Homo sapiens: one gene and its partners. The gene in region 1 interacts genetically with each later gene. Each region holds a gene or a part of one and is shown on either strand. Other genes may lie near its edges.

What was found.
Region 2: changes in MBTPS2 (region 1) and CMAS together harm fitness more than expected from each alone (negative genetic interaction), as found in Homo sapiens cells (one large-scale study listed by BioGRID).
Region 3: changes in MBTPS2 (region 1) and CIT together harm fitness more than expected from each alone (negative genetic interaction), as found in Homo sapiens cells (one large-scale study listed by BioGRID).
Region 4: changes in MBTPS2 (region 1) and BOD1L1 together harm fitness more than expected from each alone (negative genetic interaction), as found in Homo sapiens cells (one large-scale study listed by BioGRID).
Region 5: changes in MBTPS2 (region 1) and NUBP1 together harm fitness less than expected from each alone (positive genetic interaction), as found in Homo sapiens cells (one large-scale study listed by BioGRID).
Region 6: changes in MBTPS2 (region 1) and CYB5B together harm fitness more than expected from each alone (negative genetic interaction), as found in Homo sapiens cells (one large-scale study listed by BioGRID).
Region 7: changes in MBTPS2 (region 1) and EMC1 together harm fitness more than expected from each alone (negative genetic interaction), as found in Homo sapiens cells (one large-scale study listed by BioGRID).

The regions. Positions count from the first base shown.
Region 1 is NC_000023.11:21,867,117-21,870,616, reverse strand, and holds part of MBTPS2 (membrane-bound transcription factor site-2 protease), read right to left. Parts: intron 2,151-3,500; coding exon 2,032-2,150; intron 1,120-2,031; coding exon 939-1,119; intron 1-938. UniProt on the Homo sapiens protein: Zinc metalloprotease that mediates intramembrane proteolysis of proteins such as ATF6, ATF6B, SREBF1/SREBP1 and SREBF2/SREBP2.
Region 2 is NC_000012.12:22,056,218-22,059,717, forward strand, and holds part of CMAS (N-acylneuraminate cytidylyltransferase), read left to right. Parts: intron 1-2,349; coding exon 2,350-2,483; intron 2,484-3,500. UniProt on the Homo sapiens protein: Catalyzes the activation of N-acetylneuraminic acid (NeuNAc) to cytidine 5'-monophosphate N-acetylneuraminic acid (CMP-NeuNAc), a substrate required for the addition of sialic acid.
Region 3 is NC_000012.12:119,716,821-119,720,320, forward strand, and holds part of CIT (citron Rho-interacting kinase), read right to left. Parts: intron 2,042-3,500; coding exon 1,879-2,041; intron 1,590-1,878; coding exon 1,425-1,589; intron 1-1,424. UniProt on the Homo sapiens protein: Plays a role in cytokinesis. Required for KIF14 localization to the central spindle and midbody. Putative RHO/RAC effector that binds to the GTP-bound forms of RHO and RAC1. It probably binds p21 with a tighter specificity in vivo.
Region 4 is NC_000004.12:13,600,226-13,603,725, forward strand, and holds part of BOD1L1 (biorientation of chromosomes in cell division protein 1-like 1), read right to left. Parts: coding exon 1-3,500. UniProt on the Homo sapiens protein: Component of the fork protection machinery required to protect stalled/damaged replication forks from uncontrolled DNA2-dependent resection.
Region 5 is NC_000016.10:10,742,486-10,746,641, forward strand, and holds the start of NUBP1 (cytosolic Fe-S cluster assembly factor NUBP1), read left to right. Parts: upstream 1-1,356; 5' UTR 1,357-1,378; coding exon 1,379-1,397; intron 1,398-1,475; coding exon 1,476-1,580; intron 1,581-4,156. UniProt on the Homo sapiens protein: Component of the cytosolic iron-sulfur (Fe/S) protein assembly (CIA) machinery. Required for maturation of extramitochondrial Fe-S proteins.
Region 6 is NC_000016.10:69,441,619-69,445,118, forward strand, and holds part of CYB5B (cytochrome b5 type B), read left to right. Parts: intron 1-3,500. UniProt on the Homo sapiens protein: Cytochrome b5 is a membrane-bound hemoprotein functioning as an electron carrier for several membrane-bound oxygenases.
Region 7 is NC_000001.11:19,238,025-19,241,524, reverse strand, and holds part of EMC1 (ER membrane protein complex subunit 1 isoform 1 precursor), read left to right. Parts: intron 1-382; coding exon 383-509; intron 510-820; exon of another isoform or gene 821-1,078; coding exon 1,079-1,228; exon of another isoform or gene 1,229-1,268; intron 1,269-1,539; coding exon 1,540-1,707; intron 1,708-2,222; coding exon 2,223-2,294; intron 2,295-2,667; coding exon 2,668-2,730; intron 2,731-3,385; coding exon 3,386-3,500. UniProt on the Homo sapiens protein: Part of the endoplasmic reticulum membrane protein complex (EMC) that enables the energy-independent insertion into endoplasmic reticulum membranes of newly synthesized membrane proteins.

The DNA of each region.
Region 1 (3,500 bases):
GAACTGTTTAAGTATTAAGGGAATTTTTAAGAAGTAAGGGAATTTTTTCTAAATCCCAGATGGGGTTTTTTGTTTGCCAAGTTCCTTCTTATTTCTTGTAATCTTTCCTTATTGCATGTCTGTGTTGGGCTAACAATATATTAATACAGAATGTTTATGCTTTGATTTTTATATATTTAGTTGTTAACTATCGTTGTTTATCTGTTCTGACATAAGCTTATGCAAAGTAGAACCGGTTCTTATTACTTATATTCCCTTTTTCAATTATAAAAGTTTAAAGTACTATAATATATCTACAGACATGCATAAAGATAATATTATATTGGGGTATTTGATTATTGGAATTAGTTAATTGGTTATGATTGACCTTGAATGCTGATTTTTTTTTTTTTTTTTGAGACAGAGTCTCTTTCCATGTCCCGATCTCGGCTCATTGCAACCTCCACCTCCCGGGTTCAAGCGATTCTCCTGCCTCAGACTCCCGAGCAGCTGAAATCACAGGCACCCGTCACCATGCCCTGCTAATTTTTGTATTTTTAGTAGAGATGGGGTTTCACTATGTTGGCCAGGTTGGTCATGAACTCCTGACCTCAAGTGATCCGCCCGCCTCAGCCTCCCAAAGTGCTGGGATTACAGGCGTGAGCCACTGCGCCCGGCTATGATTTAATACAAGTGTTTTGAAAGCAGAAAATATTAGAGTCCTAAAAGTTAAATATGATATAATGAAAATAGTTAGAAGTTCAACAATATATAATAAAGGAAACACATATTAGCATCCAACTTACCAAGAAAAATGTCTATTGGTTGGAATCTATTTACTTTACTGATTTGCTTTAAACAGATTAGAACAGAATAAATGTATAGACATGGTTTAAGGATTAGTGAATGGCAGGTACTGGTGCTTGAAGCATTATATTATATTGAGGAAATATACACACCTCTAACTGGGAAACTTAACTGCTGTAAAGTTGATGCACTTATACAGTAACCAATTTGGGGCTCATAGGCGATGGTATCTAAACATTCATTCCAATCTTGCACATTAGTAACAGGACAATCCTGTAGATGGGTGACAAGGTCTCCCACAAAAAGGCCTCTGGGTCCAATGGCAGGAGAGTCCTTGGGAAGAGGGTAAAACCAAATCAGATAATGCATGAAGACAAGCTATAATTAATCTGAGCAAATAATAAAGACACTGAGTTAATTAAGTGAATAGTTTGAATGCAGAAAATAATCCAGCTTTGAATTCAAGACATAGTCCTAGAAAATTAAAATAAAACCCAACAATTATAGTTGCTTTTCCCAAATTCTCCAAGATTTTGAATTTTTCACAATTGAAAAAAAGCCGACTTGCTGACTGTTAAGACTAAAATGATAAAATTTTTTCCCAAACTGCCAATTAAAAATTTTTTGGTGAAAGTATCATCAGACTGTCTTGCCTTTCCTATATCCTTAACGCATAAAACAATAAGACACATCCTTTCATATCCCCAATATGCAGGCAATACCATCAGTACAATGTATATGTAAGCCAATTGCTCACAAAGGTAATTTTCCTCTTTCTAATGTCTGAATACAAGATTTGATGCCATCATAGCAGTTATTGTCTAAGGGAGTGAAATACAGAGTTGAAGACATTAACTTAAACTCCTATGAAATGTTACGGCTGGACAGCCTAGGTTTCATCTTTCTTACTACTTAGGAGGCGTAAAGACATTTGACTCAAAAGCAGAGATATAAAAATAAACAGAAAAGGTAAATGATGCATTTTACCAATAAACTACAGGTAGAAAATCTTGATACTATCTTCCTAAGTACAGCATCAGGACAAAAACAATTTTCATGAAACTTTAAAAAAACCAATGTGTTTCCCAACATTATTTGTTAGATTTGAGAGGACTACAGTAATTTCTTCAGAAGAAACTAAGCATTTTGTATATGAAGAGATCTTGAATAAAAGTTTCTGAATAGATGCTAGGTATTACATCACAACATCTGATGAAAGAATGCCCTGAGTAATCCATTATTTACCTCAGCAACTTCAGTGATGAGCACCCCAACTCCAGTGTAGTAAAATGGCAAGAGAATTACTGGGAGGAGAACAAGAGCTAAAATACCCAAGAGTGCAAGGACAAAATTATGCCAGATACCTGGAAAGAGAGGAAAAAAAGCAATAAGCTCAACCGGGGGCAGGAATGATATAAGTAGCTGGACCTCACAACACTTGGGCATTCTGATAAATTAATAAAGTGATCAGAAGAAGCAATGAGGCAAAAATATCTACTTATTAGTAGAGCAGACAGATGTTCAATTATTAGTTACTTTCATTTTAGATATTGAAATCTAAAATGGGCATGTTAATACCACACTAGGAAGACCACATGCTAACATGATTTGATACTGATAGAACTAATATCTTCCACTAATTATACTCTCTTTTCAGAAAATGTATATATCACTAATTTAAACATATTTGTGATCTTTGAAAGAAACCTCATATACATTCAAATAAAAAAAACTCTTGCTAAACAGGGGTACAGAAACTCAAATGGTACTTGGAAAAAGGAGGTTGTTTTAAGAACTAAACTATTATGCAGAACAATATTGGTGGAACAAACCGAGCATATATTTTACATCACGTCACAGACTATAAAGCAACAAACCATAAGAAAACTGTCGGCCAGGCACGGTGGCTCACGCCTGTAATCCCAGCACTTTGGGAGGCCAGGGCGGGCGGATCACGAGGTCAGGAGATCAACACCAGCTTGGCCAACATGGTGAAACCCTGTCTCTACTAAAAATACAAAAAAATTAGCCAGGCATGGTGGCGCGCGTCTGTAGTCCCAGTTGCTTGTGAGGCTGAGGCTGGAGAATTGCTTGAACCCGGGAAGCGGAGACTACAGTGAGCTGAGATCGTGCCACTGCGCTCCAGCCTGGGTGACATAGCACAGAGCAGGACTCCGTCTCAAAAAAAAAAAAAAAAAGAGAAAACCGTCTTTATTATTTTTTTTTAAACCCTAAAATTTAGGTACTCAAATTCATTAATCTTTTCCATTATATATTCAACCTTTGCAGCTGTGCAAAGGAAGACTTTCTCGCCCCTAACATTATGTAAGTAATCACTCTTTTTGTGGAGAAGGATGGTTTAAATAGTTTTATTTTTACATTTAAATCTCTTACCATTTGGAATTTATTTTTGTGTATGTGTGTGATTTTTACATTTAAATCTTTTACCATTTGGAATTTATTTTTGTGTATGGTGTGACTGATACATATAACTAATTTTATTCAAATGTTTAGCTAATAATTACTGAGCAGTGCATTCTTTCCCTACTAAATTAAATGCAACTTTTAATTTACAATACATTTTCATCTATTCTTTGGCTTGCTTCTGGAATTTCCATTCTTTTCCACTATTCCAGTGACAATAAAGCTGTTGCTGGTAGTAATATTTCAGTATTTAGTAAATAAATACTTTCAATTTGTTTATTTTGGTTATT
Region 2 (3,500 bases), on another chromosome or scaffold:
TTCCTCTAATTTAACATATTTTTGATAGCTATTTGAAAGTCCTTGATTGCAAATTTCAACATCTAGTCACTTACAGTTCTGTAATCTGCTTCTTTCTTGATTGTGAGTCACCTATTTCTGCCTCTTCATTTGGCTCATGTTTAATTGTATATCTGGCATAGACACTTGAGTACATATTTTCCTCCAGAGAGGGTACACCTTTTCTTCTATCAGGAAGATAGGATAAGGGGCTGATCACTTTGATTCAATTAGGAGTTGGGCTGGGTTGAAACTTTAATTTCATCTCACCTCTTAGTATAGGTGTCTTATTAGGAGATACATCTTGTATGTGTTACTGACACTCACACCCATACCCTACTCTTGCTAACAAGACTAAGGGATCTGATGACCACAATACTATTATGATGTCTCCCTGCTTTCCAGCCCATTCCCAGCTTCCCACCCAGTACACTCAGCCAAAGTCTTGTAAGGGGGAAGCATTAGGTGGGGAAAAACGAGCTATATGTTTGTGGTTCCTACAGATGACAATCTGTAACTCAAGTCCACAAGGTCATTGAAAGCCCTTCTAGTTTTTGCCTACCTCAGCAGAGTCCCTCTGATTATGCAAAGCTTGATCTTTCTTGTACCTTCTCCTCATACTCAGCAGATATGACCAGGGAGAAAGCAGCCACCGATACTAGGAAAGATTTGTCCCTCTCTTTTCTTCAAAGTACCACTTGAATTATCTAGTTGGTTTATTACCTGTCTCTACCCCTAGATTGTATACTTTTTGAGAATAGAGAGAGTTCTGGTCACTACTCTGTAGCCAGTGCCCATAAAGCTATGTTATCTCTAGCTATTTAATTTGTATTTGCTAAGGTTTTTTCCTGGGTTATTTCAAACACTGGGGTGGAATTGAACAGGGGATGATTTCGTTAAACAAGTAAGTAGAGGTTATTCCTAGAAGCCTGTATAAACACAGAAATGGCAGCAAAAAGTGAAGAAAGATTCTGGAGAGTAACCAGCTATTACACACACACACATACACACACACACACACACACACACACACACACACAGATTTGAGGAAAACTCAGTGGAAAGGCAAAGGAATCTCTACATGACAGTACCAAAGTCTTCATTGATTACATTATGTTCTATTCATTAATGTTGACATTACTGAGCCTTTATTATCAGGTATACTCATAAACATAATTTATTATTATGTTTAGTATATTTTTAACTAATGGTAAGAATGTATAATATGTTACATAAACATTTTCATCAATATAAAATCTTCAATAATTTAATGGAGAAATCTTTACTTTTCAGCAATAATTGTATAAAAACAAGTTCTCAACCACATTAGATAAATAAAACTTATTTCTGTATATGCAAACAATGAGAACTAGATTAAAGGGCCCAAATATTAATATAGGTATTTTATGACAAATTCAGTTCTTTTAAAGCTACTTTAAGGTTGTCTTGATGTCCTCCCAAAGCATAATATTTGTATGAATACCTTAATTGTTCCACATTTCATTATAAAATACTTTAGTTTTCTAGTAGCTATTGGAAAGCAAAGATAAATCATCAGAATTATTACAGATTTTATTCCTTTAAAAAAGTTCTTTTTTTTTTTTTTGAGACAGAGTCTCACTCTGTTGCCCAGGCTGGATGGAGTACAGTGGCGCAATCTCGGCTCACTGCAATCTCCCCCCCCCGGGTTCAAGCGATTCTCCTGCCTCAGCCTCCCAAGTAGCTGGGATTACAGGTACCCACCACCATGCCCGGCTAAATTTGTGTTTTTAGTGGAGATGGCGTTTCACTATGTTGGCTGGGCTGCTCTCGAACTCCTGACCTCAAGTGATCCGCCCGCCTTGGCCTCCACAGTGCTGGGATTACAGGCGTGAATCACCACATTCAGCCTAAAAAAAGTTCTTTATCAGGCCGGGTGCAGTGCCTCATGCCTGTAATTCCAGCACTTTGGGAGGCCGAGGTGGGCGGATCACGAGGTCAGGAGTTCGAGACCAGCCCGGACAACATGGTGAAACCCCATCTCCACTAAAAATACAAAAATTAGCCAGGTGTGGTGGTGCATGCCTGTAGTCCCAGCTACTTGGGAGGCTGAGGCAGGAGAATCGCTTGAACCCAGGAGGCGGAGGTTGCAGTGAGCCAAGATCGCACCATTGCACTCCAGCCTGGGTGACAGAGCGAGACTCTGTCTCAAAAAAAAAAAAAGAAAAGTTCTTTATCTAGATAAAGAAATGCTCTGCATTCTGAGTTCATTTTTATTAACTTTTTTAGTTACTAAATTAACACTTTCTATATTCAGGGCAACGTGGACTTACTCTAACTTTTTGCTTTTAGTTCGTGAAGTGACCGAACCTCTGAATTTAAATCCAGCTAAACGGCCTCGTCGACAAGACTGGGATGGAGAATTATATGAAAATGGCTCATTTTATTTTGCTAAAAGACATTTGATAGAGATGGGTTACTTGCAGGTTTGTACCTTCATTTTGCATAACCCTTTTAAGCGCTTTTGTAGGCATACTTTGAGTTCTAGGGAAGAAGTATGGTACAATTTCTTTATGATAAAGAAAAGTATCAACCTATAGAGGAAAGGTAATAGCCAACAACATTTGCTATCTGAGGCATTTATCCTGCAGGTTTACCCCAAAGTGATCTTTGGAATCCATTCAGTAAATATGCAAGGAATTCTGCTACAACGATAAAAAAATGAATCAAGTACTGGGTGTCTACACATGTCCTGGTACTCATATTATTCCACTCAAAACTACGTAATCCATGTTTGTGTTATAGTTATATTGTGGCTGTAGGGTTGAATAACTTCTATTGCTTTAAAAAGACAAATAATTTCATAGAGGTGAAAAGAGTTACAACCTGGGTGTCAGGAAACCCGGAATCTTTTTATATATATATATATATATATTTTTTTTTTTTTTTATTATACTTTAAGTCAACTGCCTCTTACTATGTAAGCTTGAATATGTATCATTTTATCTGTCCTGACTCTCATTTTCAAATAACAGATTTAATGTCTCTCTCATTTTAGAGCCTGCAACATGGTTGCATCATATATTTCTTAACTTGTTAATTTTAGTTATCATTATTATTTATTATTTACTGTGTACTTCGGAGTAGGTGAAACACTTTGCATATGTTATCTTATGTAATCTGCATAGCGAATGAATGAAGTGGACATTTCTACCCAGTTTTACAGAGGAGGAAAACTGCCTCACTGAAATATGAAGTAATTGACTCAAGGCAAAAACAGCTAATAAATGGTACTGTCAGGATTTGGATTCAGGTTCTTATGTTACTCAAGAAATAGCGGTTTTAAAGAGAGAGAGAGAAACCTCTCCATTGTGTAATAAAAATTCTAATGGGACTATTATTCTGAGCAAAAGAGAGAAAAACATTTTTACAAATCTTCTGGTCAATGTGTAGGCAAACTATAGACTAGCTGTTTAGTTAAATTTAAGTGTTCAGAAAAATTG
Region 3 (3,500 bases), on another chromosome or scaffold:
GGGATTGGAAACAACCTAAATGGCCATCAACAGGAGCCTGGCTTAACAGGTGAATTGCATGCTCACACCACGGAATACTGTGTGGTTCTCTGAAAGAATGGGGTAGGTCCTTATGTACTAATGTGAAACCTCTAAGATAGCACTTTAATGAAACGAAGGTGTCTTGCAGTGTATACTGTAGTGTGCTATGATATTTATAAGAGAAAAAAGGCCTGAAAGATAAGCTTACGTTTTCTTGTTTTTGTTTTTGAGACAGAGTTTCAGTCTTGTTGCCCAGACTGGAATGCAATGGCTTTATCTTGGCTCACTGCAACCTCTGCCTCCCAGGTTCAAACAGTTCTCCTGCCTCAGCCTCCCAGGTAACTGGGATTACAGGCATGCACCACCACACCCGGCTAATTTTGTATTTTTAGTAGAGACAGGGTTTCTCCATGTTGGTCAGGCTAGTCTCGAACTCCCAACCTCAGGTGATCCGCCCACCTCAGCCTCCCAAAGTGCTGGGATTACAGGCGTGAGCCACCACTATAATATTTATAAAAGAAAAAAGGCCTGAGAGAGAGATGTGCTTATTTTTTCATATTCTTTTTTCTTTTCTTTTCTTTTTTTTTTTTTTTTTTTGAGATGGAATCTCACTTTATCACCCAGGCTGGAGTGCAGTGGGGTGATCTCGGCTCACTGCAACCTCCACCTCCTGGGTTCAAATGATTCTACTGCCTTAGCCTCCCAAGTAGCTGGGACTTCAGGAGAATGCTACCACACCCAGCTAATTTTTGTATTTTTAGTAGAAACGAGGTTTCACCATGTTGGCCAGGCTGGTCTCAAACTCCTGACCTCAGGTGATCCGCCTGCCTCAGCATCCCAAAGTGCTGGGATTACTGGCGTGAGCCACCATGCCCAGCCTATTTTCTCATATTCTTTAAATATAATCACACAATGTAAGATACATGAATGGTATAGACATGTGGTCACATATATGAACCAACACTGAGGATGGGGAGCCAGGAGACTGACTTCTTTCTTTTTTTTTTTTTTTTTTTTGAGATGGAGTTTCCCTCTTGTTGCCCAGGCTGGAGTGCAATGGCGCAATCTCGGCTACCGCAACCTCCGCCTCCCGGATTCAAGCAATTCTCCTGCCTCAGCCTCCCGAGTAGCTAGGATTACAGGCATACACTACCATGCCCAGCTAATTTTGCATTTTTAGTAGAGACGGGGTTTCTCCATGTTGGTCAGGCTGGTCTTGAGCTCCCAACTTCAGGTGATCCGCCCACCTCGGCCTCCCAAAGTGCTGGGGTTACAGGTGTGAGCCACCGTGCCTGGCCAAGACTGACTTTTTAATCTTTAACCCCTAGTATTACTTGTAATTTTTACCATATGCCCACATGTCTTAGTCGACTAAAAGAAATTTCCATACAACTCCAACGTACCCTCTGGAGTTGAAGACTCCTTTCTGCGGCTGGATGGCGGGGCCAGCAGGCTCATGGCACTGGGCTGGTGCTCTGGCGACCGCACGATGGCGGACATGGCGATCTGCTGCCTCGCGGTGGCTGGCGTGGATGGGTGTGGGTGGTCCGTTGCTTTGCGGTGGGCAGCTGCAGAGAGACCAGGACAATGCCTTTTGGTTAGCTGGGTCGCCTAGAGGACCAAACTAAGCCGAATGTCCCTGGGCTATCTTTCAAGGACCCAAGACCAAAAGAATATGCGTCACATCAACTTGGCAATGCACAGGGGCCATACGTTTTTCAGACATGGGATGTCTGGTCTGAAAGCGTATGGGCCATAAACGAAGACACTGAGCTAGTTAGTCTTGGCTGATCTCACTGAGATCAATCCTCTGCCTTTTCCACATCCTTGAGCATTTTGGAGAGAGTGAGCCCCTACCTTCCTCCCGGGCGGACCGGAGCTCGATGCGGGTCTTCTGAAGGGCTTCCTCTAGCTCTGCACAGCGAGCTTTCTCCTTCTCCAGGGCCAGCTTCAGCTCATTGTACTGCAGAGGAACCTGTGTGGGTAAAGCAGGGTCCTCTTTCCGTCGACTAAATAAACCCTAGCAATGGAAACAGAGATATCTCCTAACTCCTGGAAACTGGCACTTGAAACTAGCTAAAGGAAATCTGACTCGGGAGGAGCAAACCACAAAAGCCAGGAGCATACTCACTGTAAGTGTATTTAGTAAAAATGGCATGTGAAGGGGGGGAAGGGTAGGCTGAGCCACAGCCCGTTCCAGCCGGCTGAAAAAAATAGGGGTGCGGAAGTTTTCACCAAGAGGATTAAAGATGCTTGAATGGCCACCACCTCTTCCTCTAGCATTGCCAAGACAGGAGAGTCATGTCCTGAGTCTTTCCCATTCAAAAAATGGAATCAGGAGAGTATGGAGTATGGAGTCAGGAGAGATGGTTCAGAGGTCACTCTTGCCTTGGAATATGTCTCATGATGCTCAGTTACAAGACACAGAGATGAGTGTTTTGTAAAAGGAAGCAAAATTTTAAAAGGAATGCTAAAATGAGGTCAAAACAAGGGGCTTACTCAAAAAAAAATGCAAATGAAAATATTTACTATACATGGAAAAAAAAGGAAAACAGAATAATGCAACTTAAAAAAAAGGTAACTAAAAAAAATAACAAATGGAAACACCCTAACTAAATCAAGTGACATAACCAGGTAACAGTTCACTGCTAAAATAAAAAAGATTAAATATCATAAGCATAACAACCATATACAGTCACGCAGCATGCAAGAAAATCCTTCCCGTGCAGCCAACGTCTAGTGGGAGGCGGCCTCTGAATGTTGTGCTCATGCCCTTACAGCGAAGATGGCACCGGAAATATTGAGACAACTGTCAACTTCAGCCCTCCACTCCTTCCTCCTAGGTATTCCAAGTCATCAAGGCCTCTCCTGCAAAACCACTGCCACTGCTGCTATGGTATGCTTCTGCATTTGGAAGGAAACTGCAAGCTTCTTCAAGACTTTTCTGGAACTGAGAACACCTGGCCAAACCTAGTATGAAGGCTTTAGTGGTTTGGGAAAGCATGTATAGATCAGGCTTATGAAAAACAATCTTCTCATGTGCACTATGTATAACCCTGCCCCTAGTTTGTAATTTGTCTCCTGCAATCTAAAAGGGTTGTTCAGTACTTGGCAGAGGGGAGAAGTGTCCAGTCAGACACTTCAGGCAGGTCACCCCAGCTCCCTGAGTTCTAGTCTCTTTGTGAGCCGATCAAAAGGACTGGACTAGATCACTGTTAAAGTCCTTTCTGGAGTGTGGTACGAGAGACCTGAACTGCTGAAGCCCCATACTTGTGACTTGCTAACTCCCTCTAGAGTCATGTATGCATGACTTGGTATAAATCTTTCTCTCTGCATACATCCCTCTGCCCCAACTGCTATGTGTGTGGGCTGGGGAGGGATTACTTCTTTAACAAAGATACTATGATTTGAATGGTCATAAACAAAAAGTAGTTTGTTAGACTTGATCACTGATATCTTTCAGTAAGACCTATTATAAT
Region 4 (3,500 bases), on another chromosome or scaffold:
TCTGCTATGCTAGTGGAAATGAGAGCACATTCATCCTTCTCCTCCTTGCTGGTTGAGGCAAGAGGACTTTCAGCTTCTGGGGGCGCACTGGGCATAGGCCCCTCAAAGTCGGCGGTGCTTATCAAGACTGGACCTGTAGCCCTTTCTTCCACTGCTGCAGCAACCGGCTGAAGACTTTCAGCACACTTGATGGTTGTTGCACTGGAGATAGGCAATTCGAATTCTTCCCCTATGCTTGTGGAAATCATGGCACACTCATCTTTCTCTTCACTTCTGCTGGCAGTGAGTTGGCTGTCATCTCCTGAGACTGCACTGGGCATGGGGGCCTCAAATTCTTCTGTGGTTACTCTGGTACCTTCCATATTTTCTTCAGTTCTCAGAGCATCTGAGAGACCTCCTTCCACATCTGTAATTGCGCTTACCTGAGGGGTGTAATCATTTGTGGTACTGGTGGAAATAATCAAAACTTTGCCTTGATTTTTACCCCCTGCTAAGCTATTCTGGTTGGTAATATCACCACTGGCTGTAGTTGCCATGAGACCATCACACTCTTCATTTTCTACAGAGGTGATGATGTCCTCATCTTCTTTTTCACTTGGTGATGTGTGAGCAACTTCACATTCTGGGACTTCACCAGATACAAGAACATCGTAACTACCCCCGACCAGGCCAGTGGAAATAGTGGTATCTTCAACTTTTTCGAGCTGACTGTCACTTTGATCAGATGCAGCACTAGTCATAGGACCCTCACAACCTCCTGGAACTGGTGTCACTTCATCCTTTCCTGAGACTGCACTGGTCACACTGCTTTCTACAATCCCTTTTGCACTGGAGCAGATATCTGTGTCTTTACTTCCTTTCTCTGTGCCACTCATGCTGTCAACATTATTTTCATTTGCATTCATGATGGCAGCTCCAGCCTCAGCTTCCACATGCTCTACCACAGTACCAATCTGACTGTCCCCTTCTGCACTTTCACAAATCAAGACCCCTTCACTTTCTTCTCCTAACCCTGTACAAGTTGAAGCATGCCCAATTTCATTTCCTCTTCCAGTACTAGTCACAACATCCTCCCCTTCCTCGTCTTCCTCTTTTGCGCCTGTGCTAGTCACAATGCCTTCATCATCACAAGGACCAGCAGCAACTAATGGTACATTAGTGCCTTCTTTGGCCACTGTGCTGTCCATTGCACTCTCTCCATTTTCTTCCGATTCAGAACTTATAGCAAAGCCTTCGCTGCTATCTTCTGAACCTGTGCAACTTGCTGGCCCCTCTCCATCTTCTGTTATCCCCGTGCTGGTGACTGCACTCTCACCTTCTGTACCATCATTCACAGAACCATCTCCTTCTTGGCTGGCACTTGTTCCTGGTGGTGCATCATTATCTCCCAGGACAACACCTGCACCTGTAACCATGCGTTCCTCCCGGGGCCCTGCTCCAGTTACTGAGCAGATCACAAAGTTATCACTTCTGCCTTCTGCTCCTGTACATGTCACAGTGCCCTCTGTTTCTTTTTTGGGACCCATTCTCATCATATTTCCCTGGGAGCCATCCACCTCTTCACTGCTTATAGATCCTGCTCTTATCTCTGTTCCAGCACTTGTAACTGCTCCATCACTTTCAACTTCACTAATAAAAGTAATAGTTCCTTCAACTATTTCTGAGTCTCTACTTAAAGAACCATCACATTTTTCTTCAGAGCCTGCACTGGTTACAGCATCATCCTTTTCCTCTGTCACAACGCTATTTACATTGGCTTCGATTTTAACTGCATGCACAGCCAGTAGGTCTGCTGCTCTGTCCTCAGATTCAGCCACAGCACACTCCCCACTTTCCCCTTCCTTAGTGCTTGTGAGGAAGGTTTCACTTTCAGCAAATCCCTCTGTGACAACAGCCCCACCTTCTTCAGCTGCAGCAAAAACAGTGCATTCACTGGCTTCTGCACCAACATGAAGAGGATTATTTCTGGAATGTGTTCCTATTATGAGGCCTTCATCTGCCTCAATGCTGGTGCAAGGCAAAGCCACCTCACTTTGTCTTGTTTCTGAAGAAGTGGTTGTGGCAGGCCCAGCCTTCACTGGACTTAAGGTGACATCTTTGTCCTTCCCTTCAGTACTAGTGGCAACAGAAGTCTTTTCTGCTCTCCTAGGCCCAGTTGCCACATCCTCAGTTTGTCCGTTCCTTTGGTGTAAAACAGAGGGTGCAGAGCCACTTCCAGCACTGGTGTCTACCTCACTGTTTTCATTCCTTCTTTCAACATCAATTGATATGTCTTTTACTTTACCTGGGCTTCTTTTATGCTTAAGTTTGACAGTTTCAGCATATTTTTCTGTATTCAGGCCTACAACATGATCAACAGCAATGCCATCCTTCTTGCCATTCTCTACTGTTGCTTTAATTGTCTGCTTTAAATTGGGCTCTGCATTTAAGTCATTTTCTTTCTTGGCCATGTCCACTAAGCCACCTTCTTTGGTAATATTCTCATTTTCCACAATCACGCCCGTTAACTTACTTCCAAGAGGCATGATTACCTTTCCTTGTTTACCATCCAATAAAGTAGCCTGGTGAGCTTCTGGAATGTGTCTTTTGCTAGTGATGCTTGCTTTTGCTGGTGTATCTACTGTGAAACCTTCACCACCTTCTTTGCTGTCACTTGTCTTAAGGACTTCTGATTCCCTAACAGTCAGACTTTGGTTAGGGAGAGCAGAGTGATCCGCAGGGGAGGTGCTGGCTGTGCTACCTTCCAAAACAGTTCTTTTGTCAAACAGAGGAATTACATCTGGATCATACGATTCCCTCAGAGGCACAACAGTCACTGAACTTAAGGATGGTGAGGAGTCTAAATTTGTGGAATGTTCAAGAGTGGCATCTCCTTGAGCAACATGTTCTTCAGCAGCTGTGTTTTTCAAATTCTTCTGTACCCTATCATTTTCTGATGGGGCACTCAGTAACATTCTATGAACAGTTTCAGAATCTATATTCACTTCAGTAGTTCCTCTATGAATGGGTTCTTTCTCCCCAGGGTTCATTTTGGACACAGCACTTTGTATATGCATTTTCTTGGTCAAGGTGCTTCTATGATCGGCATGCTTTTCAGAATTACTATTAACTCCTGTTCCACGGCCTGGCTTATAAGCTGGAGCTGTTGCTTTTGAATCTGCTGTGCAAGTTCTCAATTCATCCTTTTGAACAGTGGCAGAAGTTTTTTGTTTCATATTTTCAGAGTCAATGTCTTGCTGAGAATTATTATTGCGGTTGTCTTGGGTTTTAGATACTTCAAACACATTTTCAACACCTGGCTCAGAATCAATTTCCATTGGCTCTTGTTCAGGGATCAATGTCATATCACCACTCTTTTTTGGTCTCTGAAGGGAGGAACCGCTGGGAGTGCTCAAAGTGTTTGCTGCTAATTTTTCTTCTCCTTTGGCCATTTCTTGTGACAAGCTTCCTCTCCGATTTTCGCACAACCTTCTACTTAATTTCTTTTCCATGAGTGAACT
Region 5 (4,156 bases), on another chromosome or scaffold:
AATACAAAAAATTAGCCGGGCGTGGTGGCCTGTAGTCTCAGCTACTCGGGTGGCTGAGGCAGGAGAATGACGTGAACCCAGAAGGCGGAGCTTGCAGTGAGCCGAGATCCCACCACTGCACTCCAGCCTGGGTGACAGAGCGAGAATCCGCCTCAAAAATAAATAAATAAATAAACGTTTCCATATTCTTAGTGTCTGGGGCTAGGTAAAGTTTGTTCACTCATTAATATTCCAGGTGCCAAACCTGTGAGCAATGACACTCCAGTAGCAATGAGCATTTGTGGCATCCACATCTTGGTTTCTGAACTGTTGTCTGCTAAAAAGTAACCAAGGCTCCCTGAAGAAATGACTGCAGCAGGGAGAAGGGATGACTGAAACATCTTGTATCAGAAAGCAAGAAAATGCTCAAAGAAGCTGGATTAGTGCCCAAAGAACATAAGAACTGTCTTGAAGGGGCTTCACTGGCCACATCTGGGGGAAAAAAAATCGACCAGAAAGAATAATAATTGATTATAAAAGACAATTTTAAAAAATCCAGGAATCCATAGTGAGTCTTCGAAAAAAAAGAAAAAAAGAGAGGGTATAAAACTGATATATATTTATCATATATATAATCTATAGTTTTATATATATATATATAAATGCTGCTAAAATCACTGAGTGAAAGGCTGATAGAGAAGAAGATGGTCCCAGAGAGTACCTGTTAATTACAAATGGAAGAAGGAAACATTAAATGGAGAAATGGGGCAGACACCACCTTTAGCAAGCGATCAAGCTTCACATTACCAAAAACGGGACAAACTGACATTATCCAAGTGTGTTCTGCAGGAAAAAAGAAAAATTAACCTTTATCTAATTACAAGGCAAGAGGGAGGGGAGGATTAGACAAATCAAGAATATGGGATATTCTATTACACAACTGGTCTGGACCCGTCAAAATTATCAAGGTGATGAGACCCCCCCTAAAAAAAGAAGGACTGATCTGAATTAAAGGAGACCGAAGAGAAATAACTCCAGGCAGTGAGTGAATCCAGCAGGGGAGGGGGTCTAACAACTGAAATTGAAATATAAACTGTCTATTGGCTAATACTGCATTGGCTAGTACTGCATCGATATTAAATCTCTTGGGTATGAAAATGGCACTGATGTCATGAAGAATGGCTTTGTTCTTAGGAGATGCACTGCAGAAGTATTTATGATAGGAAATCTCTGAAAAGGAACAGACGTTGAGTCCCAGTCTTTCGGCCCAAGGTTCGCGCGTGCGCACAGCCCCCTTTCCGAGACTTATTTCGCGCGGTCGGAGAATCAGATTGTGCCCACAAGGCGGAAATGTACGACAGCGGGTTCCGGTGACCACGAAGGCGGCAAAGGCGACGGAATGGAGGAGGTGCCTCACGGTAAGCTCGCGGAGGGGGCGTGGGTCGCGGGGCGAAAGTGTCGGGAGCTGCTCTAACTGTGGTCTTGTCTCTGCGCAGACTGTCCAGGGGCCGACAGCGCCCAGGCGGGCAGAGGGGCTTCATGTCAGGGATGCCCCAACCAGCGGCTGTGCGCTTCTGGAGCGGGGGCCACTCCGGACACGGGTGAGAAAAGGGCAAGGCCTCAACAGGAACTTAGAGGCGCAGGCCCGGAAAAGGCGGGGCGTGGGAGGGAGGGGGCGGGATCTGCAGAATGACTGACAGCGGCAGGCTAGAAGGTATTGTATTCGGAGAGGGGTGGGGCCCAGAAGGGGCGGGGCGTGGAAAGTGGGCAGGGTGAGGGCGGAGCTTGGAATGACTGACAGGAACGAGGCCTTTAGAAGGCGAGCGCGAAGGACCTGGCGCGGATGGAGGGTGGAGACTGACCGGCGCGGAGTCGAAAGGGACATTAATTAAGAGGGTCGGGGCCAGAGGTTTGAGTGACAATAACAGACCGCAGAGAAAAACGGGATAAGCTTCGAAGTCGGGGAGTCTTCGGACTTACATCCTGGCTCTGCCAGCTACTTTCTTGACACAATTTTCTTCCTTTTGAGGAGTGATTCTCCCACTCATTCAGCAGAAATGTGTTGATCGCCTCGTAGGTTTGGTGCTGTCCTGGGGACACAGCTGGGGATCAGGCGTGGTCACTGCTCTAGTGGAGTTTAGCTTTACTGGGGAAACAAACACGTGAGCTAGCAACTAAACCACCGCAGCTTTAAGTGCTGTGAAGCACAGATTCCAGGATGAGAGGACCCAGGGAGCCTGCTCAGAAGGACCTTAAAAAGCAGGAGGCAGGAGGACAATATTTTTTTTTCTTTTTTTTCCCCCTTTTTTTTTAGACAGAGTCTTGCTGTGTAGCCCAGACCAGAGTGCAGTGGTGTGATCTCGGCTCACTGCAACTTTCACCTCTCAGGTTCAAGCGATTCTCGTGCCTCAGTCTCCCGAGTACCTGGGACTACAGGCGCCTGCCACCACGGCTGGCTAATTTTTATATTTTTAGTAGAACCAGAGTTTCACCATGTTGACCAGGTTGGTCTCGAACTCCTGACCTCAAGTGATGCATCTGCCTGGGCCTCCCAAAGTGCTGGGATTACAGGCATGAGCCACTGCACCTGGCCAAGGGGGAGAATCTTGAAGGAGTTCAGAGAGAGACTTGGATTTGATTCTTGGATCCATGCGGTGTGACCTTCAGCAATAGTCCTAACCTCTCTGAGCTTCTGGTTCCTCATCAAAAATGGAGACAGGCCGGGTGCAGTGGCTCACGCCTGTAATCCCAGCACTTTGGGAGGCCGAGGCGGGTGGATGGATCACTTGAGGTCAGGAGTTCGAGACCAGCCTGGCCAACATGGTGAAACCTGTCTCTACTAAAAATACAAAAATTAGCCAGCATGGTGGTGCATGCCCGCCCTCGAGGCTGAGGTGGGAGGATCACTTGAACCCGGGAGGTGGAGGTTGCAGTGAGCTGAGATCGTGCCACTGCACTCCAGCCTGGGTGACAGAGTGAGACCCTGTCTCAAAGAAAAAAAAAAATGAAGAGAAAAATAGTTATCTCTGTCAATGCAATGGAGAGACTGAACTGAGCCTCAGTGGAGGTTTATTGGGCCAGAGCTTGAGGGCGTGCCCTGGAAAATACAAGTGACAGAAACATCTGTGGCCTGTGCTCGATGGAGTGGTTCCAGAAGGCTGGTGTTTATATATTTCATTAAAAGGGGAAAAAGCATGCAGGAAAAAGTGCAGTAGGCCTCGTGGCAGGTAGTTACATTCTTGTGAGGTTTTAATTCGTGCCCAGTATATCTACACTATTCAGAAAATAAAGTAAACATTCAAAAGAGGGAATAAAGGAAGAATTAATTAGGCAGACGTCTCAGGGTAGGAGAGGAAGGACTATCTCATCCCATCTTTGTTTGGCATGTGGGAGGATAAGCTTGTAATGGACATGGTCAGTGTGGCGTTTAACAGACATCAGTAATAGGGAAGGAGTTAGACTGAGGTTACAGTCCTAAAGTTACAGTTGGCATGTCCTTGTTTATGGGAGGATACTCATCTTCAAAGATTTAGGGGCCAGCAAAGGAGTTCCTTAGGAGCAACTTGTGAGGGCAGTCATCCCACAATGGATTGCATGGGGCCTTTGGCCTTTTGCAGGTGTCTGGTTAATGTAGAATGCTTTGACACAAGGTTGGGAAGTAACAGCTGTCTGTTGATGGGGAGGAGGACAGCAGTGTTGGGAGGTTTCCAGGCTTAACTTTCACTTGAGTTTGGCCAGTCATGAGACTTTTTAATTTCCTTTATACCTCGTGTATTGTTTTAAGGATTTGAAATAAGATAGTTTCATTGGCAGATACTTAGTATGTGCCTGCTGTCTATCAGAGTTTCTCAACCTCAGCACTGCTGACATTTGGGGCAGGATCACTCTTTGTTGTGGGGGGCTGTCCTGTGCATTGTAGGACATTTAGCACAATCTGGGCTGTACCCATTAAATGCCAGCAGTACCTCTCCTGTGACAATGAAAAGTGTCTCCAGGCTGAGCATGGTGGCTCACACCTGTAATTCCAACACTTTGGGAGGCCAAGGTGGGTGGATCACTTGAGGTTGGAAGTTCGAGACTAGCCTGGCCAACATAGAGAAACACCGTCTCTATTAAAAATACAAAAATTAGCCAGGCATGGTGGCAGGCACCTGTAATCCCAGCTACTTGGGAGGCT
Region 6 (3,500 bases), on another chromosome or scaffold:
TTCCTGTGCAACCCTCACCTAGATGTCTGCCAGCAGTTGATCTCTCTGCCTTCTTAAAAAGTTATGTAAACTCTTATCTAGAATATCTGGGGTTTTTAGTTCAACTGACTGGACATATACAGTATAGAAACTCATTTTTTTTCAGTGGGTTTGATAATATTCTCAACTCTAGATCAAGAACTTCCCATTACTTAACCTGTCTTTGATGATCCTGAAAGTTCCCTAGATGGGAAATAGATCTGGCAGTATGTCAGGGTCACTAATTTTCCCTGGATAGTATTAAAATATATAGAAGGTTTGCTACTTTTCCTGGCCCTGGATAATCTGTCTGAAAAGAGTTTGTGTGAATGAAGTTTTCACGTATTTGCTCTTCATGTCATCCTGTAGGCTCAGAATGAACAATACAGGGAGATTCATTTTGCTTATCTATAGTTTCTAAATTTTTGGTAATGAAAATTATTACTTTTGTAAAGAAAGTTATAAAAATACTAACAATTAAATATAAAAATGCAGGGTGCTTGGATCTCAAAATAGGAGCTTACTGTGATTAAAAGTCAGACTGCATATAATAATTAGTTATAATTAATAATGCTTTTTCTTTCTTTGTTTACATGAAATCTTTCAGAAAATAATAATGCTTTTTCAAAGATTGAATTTTTGGTAAATGTTTATATTTTGGCTAGCTTAAGTTTTCCCCTTTCTCTGCCTCTCATTTCTAGAGTCACCAGAAGGAAAATGTAAAACATTTTTTAAATGGCTCTTTCCCTGTAAATCATCCAGCACACACACTGCATTTTTTCTAGTTTCAGGCATAAAGGGAAACCTGGCTCAGATAAGAATGATCCTTGCTGCATGCTCAGCGGCTCATATATCTTTCTTTTTAAATTATTATTTTTTACTTTTTAATATTTATGTATTTTTAATTTTTTTAGTGACAGGGTCTCCGTTGCCCAGGCTGCAGTGCAGTGGCGCCATGCCTCGAATTCCTTGGCTTCTGGATGATCCTCCTAATTCAGCTTCCTGAGTAGCCAGGACTACAGGCCACCATGCCTGGATAATTTTTTAATTTTTAAAATTTTTTTTGTGGAGAACAAGGTCTTGCTTGGTTGCCCAGGTTGGTCTTGAATTCCTGGCCTCAAGCAATCTTCCTGCCTTGGCCTCCCAAAGTGTTGGGAATACAGGTGTGAGCCACTGTGCCTAGCTATCCTTTTTTTTTTTTTTTTTTTAAATTCTGAGAGTCTCTAGCTCAAACACAAGTTAGCAGGTTAAGGACTACTCCAAGTTCTGGCAGAGCTAATTTTTACTACTTGGTCTTCAAAAAATAGAGGCTTTTTTAAAAATTTTTTTTGTGACAGAGCTTCACTGTATTGCCCAGGCTGGAGTGCAGTGGTGCGATTGTGGCTCACTGAAAACTTCGCCTCCCGGGTTCAAGTGGTTTTCCCGAATAGTTGGGATTACAGGTGAGCGCCAGCATACCCAGCTAATTTTTGTACTTTTAGTAGAGACAGGGTTTCACCACGTTGGCCAGGCTGGTCTCAAACTCCTGGCCTCAAGTGATCCGCCCTCTTCAGCCTCCCAAAGTGTTGGGATTACAGGCGTGAGCCATGGCACTTGGTCTTGTAACTCCTTTTTGAACATAACTTCAAAGTGAAGGCCTTTGCCCATGAGCTCTTTGACATCATCTGGTGTCCACTGGTGACCCATCAGCTCCAGAACTTTCTACTTTGTCTTGGAAGCTTTGCTGGTTTCTGTGGGCATGGCCATGGCTGCTCTGGTCATCTGCTCCTGCCTCATTTCTTATTGGTCAGTTGCCATTATCTTGGCCTAGAATCACAGTAAATTCTCTGAAGCCCAAATACGTTGAGGAAATACCAGGATGCAGAGCTCATTCAGGGTGGATCTAATGTGAGTAGTTTGATAACTTGCTGCAGCATAGGCTTAAAACCAGAGGGTCGGCCGGGTGCAGTGGCTCATGCCTGTAATCCCAGCACTTTAGGAGGCCGAGGCGGGTGAATCACCTGAGGTCAGGAGTTCGAGACCAGCCTGGCCAACGTGGTGAAACCTTGTCTCTACTAAAAACACAAAAATTAGCTGGGCATGGTGGCAGGCACCTGTAGTCCCAGCTACCTGGGAGGCTGAGGCAGGAGAATCGCTTGAACTTGGGAGGCAGAGGTTGCAGTGAGCCGAGATTGTGCTACTGCATTCCAGCCTGGGCAACAGAGTGAGACTCCGTCTCAAAACAAACAAACAAACAAACAACAACAACAAAAAACAGAGGGTCAGTGGAAATAGGACCTTGGTTGCAACAATGCCTGAGTATGTCAATGTTGATCCATTCACAAGTAAGAATCATAGGGATGACGTTTGTTATATTTCCTTTCATCATGCCTGAGAGCATAGTGGGAGGAAGTGGTGATATTTTTATCCTCTGGGTTGTTGATGTAATATTCTCATGTCAAGAAAAAGACTTTTTGGGAATGTAATTTCCATTTTCACTGAAGGCTCTGCTTCAAATTAGGACTTAACTGTCAGATACTTGCTCCTGGGTGAGCTTCTTGTCGCTCTGTACCAGGATGAACATGTAGTGGCAGATCATATCTGAGAAGAAGCAGATGATAAACATGGGCGGGACCATCCAGTGGCTGACGCTGGAGTTGGACAGTAGCTCCTACCCTCTGTCTTCACTGAGAGCTGGTCTGGCTTCTCCTGGGGTGCCGGGGCTCTTTGGGTTTTCGTCGAGGCCTTCGTATGCTCCTCAGCCTGGGCATTATCTTGGCCTAAGACTGGCCAGGACCCTGCTATAGCCTCGGGCCTAGTGCAGTGATTCCAACTCCTCCAGCTGGGCTGCCAGTGGCCCATGGCAGCCCTGCATCCATTTGATTTTCGCTAACTCTATCTGGAGACTATAGAGTTCTAAACAGAAACCAAAAGCTCCCTGACGTCTTTTTGCTTGTTCTAAGCCATCTCTATTAAGACCATATTTTAGAGTGAAAGTTATTAAACCGTAGAATTTTGTTTGATCACTCTGACCCCCACTTGCTTCAGTGAAAAAAAAAAAGAAGCAGGCTACAAAACATTATGTACTACATGAATTCACTTTGTGAGAACACAAAAAACTTTTATTTATCACTGCCTACCACACAAAATAGTAAGGATTCAATAAAAAATTGTAGACTAATGGCTGAAATGATTGAAAGAATACACAGGAAAAATGAAGTTTTATGCACCAAATTGTTAACTGGACTTATTTCTGTTCCAGGACTCTAGTTGATTATTCTTTTTTCCAAATTTACCACAGCGAATATATAACTTTTACTTAATATTTTAAAAAAGTGTTGTGCTTTCTCTTGTTTATAAGTGGTGAGAGACTGATGAAAGTGAAAGTACTTGTAGAAAGAACTGTGTAGCAAGTCAAAAATTCAGTCATTCCCTGAAATGTTGTAATCTATGAAGGAGTTTTATTGTCCTTTTACTCTGAAAGGCAACACAATAGTTGGGTT
Region 7 (3,500 bases), on another chromosome or scaffold:
CACAACAAAGAAAATGCTATGAGGCGGGTTATGAAATATCCATGAGCAACACTGGCTGGATGGGAGCTGCAGTGCTCCTGGCCTGCCTGGAGGGGGCAGCCTTACCCACCTGATTGGTGCTCTGTATTTAGGCCTAGTGTTGCCACATCTTCTAACCGTAGGAAAATTTAGAAATCTGATTGTGAAGTATAATATCTTCTAAATGTTGACAACTAATTCAAATTAAGAACAACAACAACAAAAGCCCCCAAACTGTGTGAGCCAAACAAAACCTATTTGGGAATTACTAGTTTGTGACATCTGGCTGAGGCCTGGCAGCCCCTGAGGATAATCCTGTCCTGGGTTGAAAGCTGACGCTGCGGTTTCTTCTTCCCTCTCTTAGTGACAGCATCCACTACCAGATGGTGTATTCTTACGGCTCTGGGGTGGTGTGGGCCCTCGGAGTTGTTCCCTTCAGCCATGTGAACATTGTCAAGTTTAATGTGGAAGATGGAGAGATTGTTCAGCAGGTACAGGAGGGTGACAGGAGCCTGTGAATAAGGTGGGGTTGGGGGAGACTTGATAGATTTCTTTGTACTGGGGAACAGGGAACTTGGCTGGGCAGATGCAAAAGCTACTTATGCTCCCTCATTCTGGTCACTTGCCAGCTGCCTTCCCATTAGGCCTCTATTTAAAGTACTCATATTTGCATGTGTTATCTTCTGGGGTGGCTAAAAAATTACATAGATCTAGTCTCTGCCTGTAAGTATCTTACAGTGCTGTGAAATCACAGTAGGACACCACATATGGCAAATATAGTAAAGAAGTGCTGATTCTGAAGTGCCAGGTATTTAAAATTATCGGATATATTTTTCCAGTGACCAGAAAGAAAATCCTGATATTTTTTCCAACTTTGAAGGCTCTCAGGAGGTTGGAGGGTGGGGTTTCAGGGGACAGGAAGAACTCCTATACAACCAACCATGAAGAACCTTTGAGCTTAGGACCCCCAGTGGGATGCTGGCAGCAATATTGCTGTTGGGCTGAGAGGGAAATGTAAAAATCTTTCACGAGCTTCCTGTTAACGATGACTTTTCTGTAGGTTAGGGTTTCAACTCCGTGGCTGCAGCACCTGTCTGGAGCCTGTGGTGTGGTGGATGAGGCTGTCCTGGTGTGTCCTGACCCGAGCTCACGTTCCCTCCAAACTTTGGCTCTGGAGACGGAATGGGAGTTGAGACAGATCCCACTGCAGGTGAGAGGCTGCCACTGCTTCTTCTGGCCTGAGGCATTTCCTGCGGGGAGTAGAAAGTTTGGCATGATTCCCCTGGAGGGTCTTTCTCCTAGACTCTTCCTGAGCAGTGGAAGCCATTCAGGCCTCTGGCTGAACTGGTGTAAGAGGAAATCAGTCACTTTCCTCTTTGGGGAACTTGAACTGGAGCATTTGGAGCCACCTGCCATGGCCCAGTTACTTCCCCCGGCAAAGTAGGGCAGAGGTTGTGAGCCTGGGATGGGTCAGGGAGTCGTCAGCTGTTAGCCATAATCCTCCTCCTTCTTGCCTTCCAGTCTCTCGACTTAGAATTTGGAAGTGGATTCCAACCCCGGGTCCTGCCTACCCAGCCCAACCCAGTGGACGCTTCCCGGGCCCAGTTCTTCCTGCACTTGTCCCCAAGCCACTATGCTCTGCTGCAGTACCATTATGGAACGCTGAGTTTGCTTAAAAACTTCCCACAGGTAACTGCAGGCAACATGGTTTGCTAGGATTCAGGAGATCTCTCCAAGACATGGATGCTAGAAGGCAGTGCTTTTGAATCTGGAAACGTTTGCTCTTAGGCCCAAGATTGATGACACCTTCCCGTAAGTGGTTTGAGAGGGGGTAGGTAGCCTTATCATAGAAATGGTGTATTTCCTCCTGAGTATTACAAAGGATCTTTAGAGCAAAACTAGTGCCTTCCTTAGTCCAAAGGAAATATGGGGACATAAATGAGAGCTTCCCCATAGATAGTAAGAACAAGCAGCATGGGATTTAAGATTGACCTGTGCCTGCGTTGGAGGTAGGGAGAGTTCTGTTTTCAGCTGTAGATGCAACTGAGGCCTCCCTCTGCTCTTAAATGCCTGACCATTCTGCTCCAAAGTGGGGAGCACTTTCAACTCTAAGGCCAAGGGCCTTCCCTGGAGAGGTGACCCTCTGTAAGGCAGCTGGCTAGTACTGGTCCCATTTAGGAGCTGATGCCTTGCTTTTCCCCCAGACTGCCCTAGTGAGCTTTGCCACCACTGGGGAGAAGACGGTGGCTGCAGTCATGGCCTGTCGGAATGAAGTGGTGAGTATTGAGAACAACAGTCAGCACTTGGGATTTTCCTTCCTGGTCTCCACTAGGAACCCTGAAAATCAGAAGTCTGGGCACATTGACCTGGTCAGTTTGAACCCAGCGGGCAGGAGGCTGTTGAGAAGTGAGGTCTTGCCTCAACTATAGAGCTTTCTGCACACCCCATTTCTCCCCAGGAACGAGACCCTAATGTGATGACCTTACTTTCATATGGGGCTATTAAGGGTTGAATAGGCTTTGTGGGCAGGGGTGAGAAATGAGCTTTGTCTTCTCTCAAGTGCTAAGAAGACAAAAACAAAAGCTTCATTTCAGTGACTGGGAAGTGACCCTTTGGCTGAATTTTCTCCTGTCCTTCTCTTTCTCATAGCAGAAAAGTAGCAGTTCTGAAGATGGGTCAATGGGGAGCTTTTCGGAGAAGTCTAGTTCAAAGGTATGGTGTGGCACTGGGCAGTATGCCAGACCTAGAGACGCAGGAGGCCACCAAAGAGAGTTGGGGGAAGAGCTTTGGTTAGGAGCAGGTCCTAGAGTTCCCAGCTTCAAATGAGGTTTCCTAAGTACTGTAAATTAAATGATGTTTCTCTTAATCTCATTTTACCGGGAGATTAGGAGGTAGAATCCCTAGAGTCTGTTTCTAGCCACTTTCTCCTCTGGGCCTCAGCGTCCCCATTTCTTTTGGGATCCTGGCTGGCACAGTTGAGTAGTACTCTGTGCAGTTACCCTGTAGCAGAGGCATGAGCCCCTGGCTGGAGGCATAGGTTCCTGCTGTGGCTTCCATCTAAGCGTTTCCCTGCCTCCTGTCTTGCTCAGTCTTACCTTGCTCAGCCCTACCTCTCTCTCAGAAGTCTCTGCTACTCTGTACTGGCTTCCAAGACAAGTATGGTAGTTGTAATTTCATTTATTTACTCAGGCACCTTATTTCTGCCTTAGGATTTAGCTTGCTTTTCTCTTTTATTCTCCTTTGCATATATTTCCCCTTCTGGCCTGGCTCCTTCTCTAGGGTATTTGCCCCCAATCCTTGGACTTCCTTTGGTGGGCTTTGCTTTCGGGGGATACCTGTAGTTGACACGTGCTGTCTGTACTCCTAGGACTCTCTGGCTTGCTTCAATCAGACCTACACCATTAACCTATACCTCGTGGAGACAGGTCGGCGGCTGCTGGACACCACGATAACATTTAGCCTGGAACAGAGCGGCACTCGGC